Linked DNA regions of Homo sapiens. The protein of the gene in region 1 purifies or fractionates together with the protein of each later gene. This does not show direct contact. Each region holds a gene or a part of one and is shown on either strand. Other genes may lie near its edges.

What was found.
Region 2: the proteins of CLIP4 (region 1) and MYORG purify together in Homo sapiens (affinity purification with mass spectrometry; 2 studies listed by BioGRID and IntAct, with this or other methods). This does not show direct contact.

Annotation. Positions count from the first base shown.
Region 1 is NC_000002.12:29,181,415-29,184,308, reverse strand, and holds the end of CLIP4 (CAP-Gly domain-containing linker protein 4), read right to left. Parts: exon of another isoform or gene 2,744-2,894; intron 2,738-2,743; coding exon 2,416-2,737; 3' UTR 501-2,415; downstream 1-500.
Region 2 is NC_000009.12:34,373,473-34,381,809, forward strand, and holds the start of MYORG (myogenesis-regulating glycosidase), read right to left. Parts: upstream 3,427-8,337; 5' UTR 3,321-3,426; exon of another isoform or gene 2,585-3,320; intron 1-2,584. Other genes in the region: SPMIP6 (sperm microtubule inner protein 6), read right to left, coding at 5,604-5,709, 6,174-6,260, 7,425-7,659, 7,897-7,972.

The DNA of each region.
Region 1 (2,894 bases):
ATGACCAAATGCTAAAGAGAAAAATAAAACATGAGAGGGAAACAAGGAGCTCTTGGGAGGAGGTGCCAGAGACTCACAACAAGATTACAACACCAGAGTTCACAGTTAGCAAACAGCAGTACTCAACATTCTTACATACTTAAAAATATTCCCCCCAAATCACCCTAAATATAAAAACAAAGTTTTTTAGTAAAAGGCAGCTAATTATTTCTATTTTTTAATCTAAATTCAAAGTGTTCCATCCTACCCTAAATAAACAAGTGAAATCCCAACTGTAGAAATACGTTCTTTTCTTAAATGACTCACTATTCATCAAAACAATACTAATAGGATGGTGGCTATGAACATAGACTGTTGAGTAGAAAGCATGATACTTTTTAATACTCTTTATAGGGACAGGACAAATCCAAGCCATTACCGTGAGGAAAAAGTTCAAAGCATATGCACCCTGAGTTACTGAGAAAAGCAGAGTTGCAAATAGGGTAAATGACAAGATACCATTCCAAAACCACACAGCTTCCCTTTTTATTGATGCTCAAGAAGTGAACTTTAAATGACATTTCATAAGCAAAACACAAATGAAAACACCTAATGTGCATGTATAGTATATGTAAACATACATAGTATATGGACTCAATCATCCTCATCTAAATATAAAGAGAACAACTGGTTCTTTGACCTCAAAAATAAATTCAATGTTGGCATTACTGTTTTTAACTTACAGTGTTTTATATTTAACAGGAAAAATTATGAATAACCAAGTTTGGTGTGGTCATGGATTTCATGTTAAGGTATAAATAGAGTTTTTAAGAAATAATCTGTATAATAAAATAAGTTTACTTTTGAATCGCAGTACAGTCATTTCCTTCAATCAATAAAAATATTCCTTGATTACAAAGCAGCCTTATTTTGCAAATGTATTTCAGGAAAATAGCTCTAGCAATATTTGAAATACCACACTATTTTAAAAAGGCAGCGAAGTGACAGAATTTAGATTTAAAATAGTATATTGCAAAATAGTTCAACATATTATTTCTAAGCACAAGGCAAGCTCCATTCTGAAGGATGCTTTTTAATCTTATAAAGCAAACTGTTCCAATATTTCTGTGGTAAAGTCTAAATATTTACAATAAAAGATGAATCTTTACACAGACAGGACATAAACTTCAATACCTAACCACAATGCAAACATTTTACATTATGACATCACTCTAATGTGAAGCTTAGTTTGTTAACATGTGCTCAAGAAGGAAAATAAAAACAATACAGTTCTGTAGCTTTGTAACAGGCAGAACTCTGCAACAATTAGAGAAATAAAAACAGCAAACAACACCAGTTCTATGAGTAACAAAACAAAAAAAATCCAGATATTATAAACATTTAAGTAAATAACTAATACATCCTTCCTGATATATCTTTATTTGCTCTCTTCTGTTAAATACGTTTTTTAAAATGTTTCTCATATCCCAGGAGGAAAGGACAGTAAATTATTCACAAAGATAAAAGTGCATCATGTTTGAAAAGTGCTTTGTGTTTATGTGTTACAAACATATCCAATAAGGAAGTTAAGTAAGTCTGTGCAAAAAAAATCTAATTATTACTTGAATTCATAAACCTTAATCATGGGTTTTTTGTAGTTCATCCAGATGAAGCAGTCAAGCAGCAGAAGAAAAATCTGAGATTAGACATTTTGTATAGCAGAAAGAGCACTGGGCCACAAGTGAGGAGACCCACAGTCTATTCTTAGCTCAGTTAACCAACCAGTTAGTGACCCCAGGTAAGACGGGCTTCCATTTCAGTATTTGGCAATGGGCAAGAAGCAGAGCTGGAGAGCCTCTAAGGCCCCTTCCAACTCCAAAATTATCATGTATCTTTAGATGAGGCATTTCTGAAAGGGCAAATAATTTTACCAAAATATAAAACTACATACTAGTCATCTAGCTACTACTCACTCATTGGACTTATTAGTAATAAAGCACAGAAAGAAAGAAAAATTCCAAAAATGATTGACAAAAAAAGGTCACGTGAACATTACACATAACCAAAGCTAGAGAAACCCTTCACAATTAGGGCACTAAGAAAAATCCATTATGATGTGCAAAAACAAAACAGAATAAGCAAGAAATGCAACAGCTGGTCACCTGATGGCACTTTTTCTTCCTGAGTCCCAGAATCTTCTTGGAACCTAAAGCTTTAATTGGTACTTATTTTGAAAATTGCTTTAAAAGAACCATGATTCCCCATAGTTCATATTCATGGCTTTGTAAAGAACTCTCTCTGAATTGTTATAATGGTTTTTAAGAAGATAACTATATTTTCAAAATTTTAATATGGCTAAATAAAGTAAACCATTTACCATGGACTCTTTATTTACACCAAATATATATATTTGAGCTTATTTAATATTTTAGAAGCTTAACAATTCTCATCCACAAGTTTTGACCCATTAATTCCCCGATAGGTCACTCTGCTCGGTCGAACTAAGACTCCATGGTTCGGCTTACAGGTGAAATAGCGCTTGTCACCCACTGACCCATCATTTTTTCCCTTGGCGCTTCGGAGCTCAAGTCCAAGCCAGATACCTGAAGCAAAGTCAGTGGGGCCCACATACCTAACAGTACCCATCTCATTGGAGCTCGTGAGCAGGACCTGAGACCCCTCGTGCAGCTTCACGCTCCCTTCAATGCCACCTGCGGTGGGGGTGCTGCTCCAACTGCGACGCAAAGCAGCTTTCGATCTGTGCGGAAGGGAAAAGTGGGAAAAATTATTTAGTGCTGAAGCCACGTAATGCAATGCATCATATTCATTTCCACTGCCAGATTCAGAATTCATTCACTCAGTTCCCAAAAGAGAATACTTTATGGTCACAACTTGATTTTTAAATTTTAAATAGC
Region 2 (8,337 bases), on another chromosome or scaffold:
AATGGAGTCTCTCTCTGTCACCCAGACTGGAGTGCAGTGGCATGATCTCAGCTCACTGCAATCTCTGCCTCTTGGGTTCAAGCGGGTCTCCTGCCTCAACCTCCCGAGTAGCTGGGATTAAAGGCGCACACCACCACACCTAGCTAATTTTTGTATTTTTGGTAGAGACAGGGTTTCACCATGTTGGTCAGGCTGGCTTCGAACTCATGACCTCAAGTGATCCACCTGCCTCAGCCTCCAGAAGTGCTGGCATTACAGGCGTGAGCCACCTCGCCCAGTCCCCCTTGAGACTTTTAACAGGGCGGTAGGCTAGCTTCCCTGTCCCCAGAGGGGGAGAGGAGGGAGGAAGGGAGAACAGCTCAGGGATGTGTTTTTATCCTGAGTCAAAAGCCTGATGAAGTCTGGAGATTGAAGAAGACACCCAAAGCCAGACTTAGTCCCAGGGCCTGGTTTGGAGGGAGGTAGAGTTGGGTTCAGACATTAGGGCCTGGGGCAGGAGCCTGGCATGGGGGGCCAGTTGTTTCTCACATCTGCTTCTCTTTGCCCTCAAACTCACCCTGCTCTCAGCCATCATCCATCACCAAATCCATTTCCATGCCTGCCTTCCTGCTTTGCTCCTGGCACCACATCTGTGGGCCAGCTACTTCCTCGCTCTGTTTCACCCACTGTCCTGTTTCTGTCATAGTTTGGGCACTGTCACTTCTCCCCTGTATTACCAAACGCTTCCCCCAACAGGCCTCTCTGACTCTAACTTCTTTCTCACCAGTGCCTTCTGATCACGGCAACCATAGTGATCTTTCTAAAGCACTTATCAAACCATATCTATCCCTAGCTTCGAGAGCTGCTCATTGCTTCCATGATGAAATTTAAAAGTGTTTGCTTTGCACTGGAGGCTCCAGGCATGATGTGTTCTCAGCTACCATTCTGATTCCATTTCCAGCCAAGCCTATCTTGTGATTACCAAGCTCGTTCCTTCCCCAACCTAAATCCTTTAGGCCACCTGCTTCAGGAGATTTCACCCACCTAGCTTGGCCCAGCGCACCTCCTCCACCTACCTGCTCTCCAGGGATCAGACACCCACCACTACCACTAACACACATAAACTCTGACACACTATATGCTAAATATCCAGATATGAGGCCATGCACGGTGCTCATGCCTGTAATCCTAGCACTTTGGGAGGCCAAGGAGGGCAGATCTCTTGAGCTCAGGAGTTTGAGACCAGCCTGGGCAACATGTTGAAACCCTGTCTCTACCAAAAATACAAAAAAAAAAAAAAATTAGCCAGGCATGGTGGTGTGCACCTGTAGTCCCAGCTACTTGGGGGGCTGAGGTGGGAGGGTCGCTTGAGCCCAGGAGGTCAAGGCTGCAGTGAGCCAAGATTGTGCCACTGCACTCCAGCCTAGGTGACAAAGTGAGACCCTATCTCAAAAAAAAAAAAAAAATACAGATATGACTACAGGGAAACACAGGCTCAGGGGAAGAGGTGTGTCCTACTCTGCCACTCAAGGCCACTGACCGTTCCTGTCCCAGGCTTCAGAGCAGAGTCCAACAAAGAAATAGCACCACCCAGGTGCACACACGGGCATACACACAGCCAGCCAGTTGGTTGCCCAACTGCTCCAGCTCGGGGGAAGAAGAGAAGGAGACTAGCAAACAGTAATTAGCCTCCTCCCAGATGCCAGTGTCTGTCTCTAAGTCCCCAGGGACTTCCAAGGAGATGCCGGAAATACTCAGGTTTTTCACCTCCCCCATGCAAGAATGCAAGGTGTGGAGCAGAATTTGATCCTAAATGTCAATACACAGCTCCTCCCATAGGCACTTCCCACACGGTGCTAGCTCAGGGCCTCATTCTCAGTGCCCTCTGCCCCCAGCTGCCTAAGCTTGTCAGCCCTAGCTGGTCTGGAACAGACTCTTATTCCCTTTCTCTCAGTCTACAATGACTTAGCTTTCCTCCCCATTCCTATATAGATACAGCTTAGAAAACACCTCCTGGAAAATGCAGCCAGTGGCCTTTAGGTGATGCCCTCAAGCTGAGCAGAACCCAAAGAAGGCTTTAGGTGGCTCAGATCACACCTGTGAGTTTATATTCATTCATTCAAGATAACCAAAGCCCTATTCTGGGCACCAAGGAAATAAGGAGAGAGAGGGTCAGTATCTGAAGAGGAGAGAGACTTCCTCATCCTCAAAACTTTCATATGAAGTCAGCCTATCTCATGAGCCCTGGAGGCAGGAAGAGGCCACCAAGGTGGATTCAAAAGCCCTTTCCGACAGTTATGTTTTGAGAATCTTAATTTTCTGGGATCTGAAGTTCTTTGATGAAAGACAGAAGCCCACAGGCCTGGGCACCCACCCACCCCAGGCACCATGATAGTGTCCCAAATGTCACCACAGCATCCAGTTCTATCAACAATGTGGAACAGCAGACATAGCTGCAGTGTCCATTTTACAGGTGAGGAAACGTGGCCCAAACAGAAAAAGGAACTTGTCTGAAGTTAGCCAGGTATCAAGGCTGCCTGGATCTAAAATCCCAGCCCAGCTCTCCACAGTGTAAGTTTTAGGAGATGGGAGATAATGATCTGACCTGGCTGCCTGAATGCAGTAGCAGAAAGGAGCCCTGGGGCTGAGCTGGTGGGACCAGCTTCCATCAGATGGACATGGCATGGTGAGGCCTGTCTTTCCAAGGGCTGGTGCTGCTGCTTGCTCCACGCGGACCACGAAGACCACGAGGGCAGCAAAGAGGGCAATTTTAATGGCATCTGGTACCGGGGCTTTGGGGGAGGAAGTCTGTGGTTCCGGTGTTAACAGTGGTGCCAGAGACCTCTGTAATCTGCCGCCTCCGCCAGGTGGAGTCTGGGCTCTGCCCCTGCTGAGCCTCTCCCCACCGGACACTCAACCTCAGCCTTGGCTGCCACAGCTAGTCTGGTCTGAGGGGGAGGGCCCCGCCCGACTCAACTGAGGGGAGGCCATTCCAAGTAGAATCGTTAGTTGGACACAGTTCCCGGGGGGATGGAAATGTCAAAGGCAACTCGATCCGGCCCATCTCCCTCTCCTGCCAGGCGACGGTATCCGCGGGGATCGAGTGACTGCCTACATAGCCTGGAATACTCCACAGCCGCCCTCCCTACCCCGCCCTGAAGGCTATACTGTCCGAAGGGGCCGACCGAGGTCAAGGGACCTGTCGCCCCGCGGGAATCGCGGCCGTGGGATGGGCCCAGGTGTTCAGGCTCGCTCCACCCATTCATCGGTGGGAGCGAAAGTTCAGGAATCGTGCTCCTTCAGCAGCCCCCCGCCCCCCACAGCCCTCCCGCTGGGCTCACCCATTGCAGTTACAGCCCGGCAGAAGCGGGGGTGAAAGAGCTTCCCGCCGATCCCCTGCGCTTGAACCAGAGTGAAGCTGCCGCCGCGCCGCGCGGGGCTCTGTCTGGCAGGGCACAGCCCCTCCTCGGGTCCCGCCCTGGGGTTCCTCGGCCACGCCCCAGTCATCCAGTCTCGTCTCGGGCCTCAGAGTCCAGCCCTGCCCTTGACGTTCGACCCCTCCTCCCAGGTTATCAGGCGGATCTGTGGCCCCGCCCCTCAGCCCCACCTTCCTCCCACCGCTCTGTGCTCTGCCCCTGGCATTTCAGGCTTGCTCAGTCCTGCGCCCCGCGGCTCCGACTCCCGCCGGCGGGCCCGCCCCTCCTGGGCCACTGCTAACCCGCAAGCGGGCGGGGCTCGGCCCCAGGCCTGCTGGGACATGTAGTTCTGCAGAAAGGAGCAGCTGCGGAAGGTTGGGGTTCTTGCACCTCTAGGCTAGGTTTGGAATGAGGATGAGAGGGAGAGAGCTGCAGGGTAAAGGAGCAGAGCTGGCCATTGGAATTCCTTCCTTCCCGGTTTGGACAGGTGGAGGCCATATCGGTATAACGCTCTCACAAGCCCTCAGCTTTCCATACGGAAAAGTGGTGGCGGAATTCCGCGAGTATCTCAGCTCCCAATGCAGGTGCTTCCAATCGAGGGCCCCACGGAGGGAGCTGTAGTTCCAACCCGCCGCGAGTCCAAGCTGTCGGTTCCCACCGGACCAAACCAGCGGTGTCCGAGGTCAGGGACTGAGAAGACCGGTTTCTGCTCGGTGTTTTGCAACGTCACCCGCCTCCCAGACCGCTACCCCCAGACTAGTTATTTATAGGGTCCAGCCCCTCCTCCTAAGTTACAGCCTTTAGTTAGAAATGCCCAAGCTGCGGGAAAGTGGGTGTGCCCCGCCATGCCCCTCTCCCCGGGGGCTGGGCAAGACTCTGAGGTTTCATTTCTTTTTTATTTTATTTTATTTTTATATTTATTTATTTTTGAGTTTCGTTCTTGTTGCCCAGGCTGGAGTACAATGGCACGATCTCAGCTCACTGCAAACTCCGCCTCCCGGGTTCAAGCAATTCTCCTGCCTCAGCCTCCCAAGTAGCTGGGATTACAGGCACGCACCACCGCGCCTGGCTAATTTTGTATTTTTAGTAGAGACAGAGTTTCACCATGTTGGTCAGGCTGGTCTCAAACTCCTGACCTCAGGTGATCTACCTGCCTCGGCCTCCCAAAGTGCTGGGATTACAAGTGTGGGCCACCGCGTCCGGTCTTTATTTTTTTGAGAGAGGGTCTCGCTCTGTCGCCCAGGCTGGAGTGCAGTGGCGTTAACATAGCTCACTGCAGCCTCAATGTCCTTGGTTCAAGCTATCCCCTCCCGCCTCAGGCTCCTGAGTAACTTGGACCACATGTGTGTGCCACCATACCCTGCTAATTTTTAAATTTTTTTGTAGAGAAGGGGTCTCTTTATGTTGCCCCAGCTGGTATCGAATTCCTGGGCTCAAGTGATCCTCCTGCCTCTGCCTCCCAAAGTGGTGAGATTACAGGTGTGAGCCTCTGCACCCAGCTGGTTTCATATCTATTTGATGCAGAAATAAAAATACTGAAGATCACAGAGATTTTAGAATGGCCCCTTCTCGCTCCCTGAGGGGCAGAGAAACAGGGCTTTGTTTTGCAACTTGAAATTTCTTTGTCATGAGACCCTCCAAAATTATGTTTTGACCAGTTGGACTTGGAATGGGGGACACACCTTGTGCAGCAAGGGTGTCTGAGCACAGAGAGGCTTTTGGGAGGCTGTGATGGGGACTCCTGGAAGCAGAGATCAAGAGCTTTGGGTGTAGGGATAGGTCTTTGACTGTGGAAGGAAGGATTCTGGGTCCTCTGATGAGTGGGAGGGCATCTAAGTTTGGGAGCATACTGAAGAAATGTTAGCTGGAGGGTCTTCGTGGGGTGGAAAGTAGATGGCTCCTGCCTGCATTGCAGGGTGGACCCATCCGTTTGGGCTCTGGGATTCAGGGGAGGAGGATAGCAGCTGGATATAAGGCTACTGTTCTGTGTCAGGAGGGCACTCAGGGATGTACTGAGATGATGGGGTTGGAAGGGCCCAGGGAAGGGTGACTTTGAGAAAAATTGCATCTCAGTTGAAGGGGTTTGATAGAGGCCTGAGTGACTGGCCCTTCACTTCCAGATCCTGCTGGGTAAGGACACAGGAGGCAGGCTTTGGGGTTGAAGAGTTTATTTATTGCTCTGCCCCCTTGGCACAGCAAGCCCAGGCTCTACCAGCAACGATAGTCGGGATAGGTCTCAGACACAAACTCAGGATGGATAACATAGTTGTTTCTCTGGGGACCACCAGACTTCTTGAAGTGACTTGTGTCCCATCTACAGGAAGAGATGGGTCAGCCGTTTTGGATCCTCATATGTCAAAGTGAATATCTGACTCCAGTTTGCAATGCTAACCTTATCCCTACACTTTGTCTATAGCACTGACCTTGGGTTCCAATACTGACCTCCTGACCTTAGGTTCTACTGTTAAGTTGCTGATACCCAATATTTCCTCCTTAACATCGACTTCTTACTCATTACTTCAAGCTCTGAACCAACGCCTTTGGCTGTAAGCCCACTGCCAACCTGTAACCCTTCAATACCGGCCTCCTAGCCCTCTCTTAAGGTCCTCTGTCCTTACCACCTTTGACTGCTCCATGCCACTAGCTCCCCCTCGTGGTATGTGCCTGTCAGTGCACCGCGGAGCGTTCTCATCCCGTCTACCAGACATCCTCCCCCAGCCCCGCCTCACCAAGCCTTCAGGGTGCGTGTGCAAATGAGTGTGTGCGCGTTAGACTTACCTAAGGTTCGGATATGGGTAGTATGACGGCGGGGGAGTTGTAACAGCACACTGCATTCCGGGCCGGTGCTCGTAGGGAGGTACACATCTGGAGAAGGAGGAAGCCGCGAGCATGGAGGGGTTGGGCCTTTTGACTCTCATCCCCCGATTTAGACCAAGCCCCTGGGCGGCGCTTCAGGTGTCCGTCCCAAGGCTCGGAAATCCTCCTCTCCTTCTTCCTCACCCTTCAAAACCCCCACTGCAGCACCGATTCGGGAACCCCCCTTGGAAGACTCCCTCCCGGCAAGGCCTCATTTCTGCCGTTGAGGAAAGAGCGCTGGACCCTGGGGAAGGTCGGGCTCCGGGCGTTGAGGACCTGGAACCACCGGATCCCCGCCACTGGACAGCAATTTCTCCAGCAGTAGGACGAGGCATCATTTCTGAGCTTCCTAGAGGCTCAGACACTTTCCCACTCCCCTATGCCCTTGAGAGGGATAAGACTCAGTCTTGCACAATGAATCAGGCTCTCTCGGCCTGGAGAGGGGCGGGGGATCACTATGGACCCCCACTGCACAGCTCTCTGGGCTACCGCGGACAAAGTTCTCCCAGGCTTGGCTGCCGCCGCGTGCAGGACGAATGCCGAGCTGCAGTCTGGGCTCCAGCTGTGCGCTCGGGCCTCAGTTTTCTTAGCAGTAACACGCGAGGGTGCCTACCTCCGCAGGTGGTGCGGGATCCGAGGAGGCCAGAGCCATTCTGGTAAAGTGGTCACCATTTCCCGGCTCACGTAGCCCCCAGGAATGACCGCACCCACTACCGACGGTGACGGGGGACCAGCAAGAGAGGACATTTTTCTGAGAACGCAGGGCACTCCACAGGCTAGAACCTGCGTCTCTAGGGCCAGGAGTCCAGGAAAGGGGGCAGGGCCAAGGAGATGGGGGAAGAGGATGCGACTGATGTGCGGGGTTTCTTCCTCAAAAACCCTCTGACGGGACCTCCAGAGCATATAGAGAGGCCAGGTTGACCTTGAGCCCAGTTTGAGAGGGACAGGGGTCGGGGACTTGGAGTAACCTTCGTGCTGGTTCTCCCGCCTCAGTTGTTAGTTCAGGCCTTGGAGCCCGAGGGCGGGACACGGCAGGGCCTCGAGAGCGTGCAGCGCGGGGCTAGAGCAGGCTGGGGGCCTGCACGGAAGCTGGCCGGGCTGGAAGGGGGCGGGGTTCTGGGGCGGGGCTTGTGTGGGGTGGAGCCCGGCTGAGGCGGGCGGAGCCCTGCGAACCTTACAGTCGGTTGCTCCCGGCACCAAGGCCGCAGGCGGCGGTCGGTGCAGGGCGCCCCGCTGGCGTAGTAGTCCATCCCGCGCAGACAGTAGTGGCGGCCCGAGCAAGCACTTTCGTAACCATGGAAGGGCAGGCGGCCGGGCAGCGGGTCCACGCACCCGCATCGGGGCGTGATCCGCGGCAGCTGCTGGTTCCGCGACAGTGAGTTCAGCATGTTCACCATCACTTCGCGCTCTGCTCCCGCGGGTCCCCAGCGCAGGAGACCCAAAGACAGATGCACAGGGATGGGAAGAGGCCGAGTCACGGACAGAGTGAGGCGGAGACAAAAGCCAGGACGGATAGATTCAGGGTTCCACCCTCTCCAGGACCCTCGGCCTCCTCCCCGTCCTTCAGGTACCCATCCCGCCCTCCTCCCGGCCTTCCCCAACCCTCTCCACCCGTTCTTTCCAACGCCCCACTACCACTCTTTACCGTAGGCATTGAGCCGCTCCGGCCTAGGAGGGCATTCCAAGGGCATTCCTCGAACTGCTGTCTCCATCCTGGCCTCCTGGAAGCGGCACACATGCTACCTCAAGCTCTGACCTGGCAGAGCTGCTCCCTTTTAGGGGTCCTCCCAGAACACCCAGACCTATCGCCACGCCGCAACTTCTCCCGCCCTTCAGCAGCTCCCCACCTCTCCAGGGCTCTGTGTTGGCGGCTGTCACCGGGCAACGCTTTTACATCGCCAACAGGGGCGGGGTGGGGTAGGAAGGGCTGAAGGTGGATGGGGTTTGGCTCCTGGGCCTGTGACAACCCTGTCTCAGCGTTTGCCTTTGATTTTACCCCTCTTTGTCTAGCTGACTCTGTTTAGCTGTGTCTGGGTGTCTCTCTAATAGGGGGTTTTCAATATTGCTTGTCATTCCGGAGAACTTG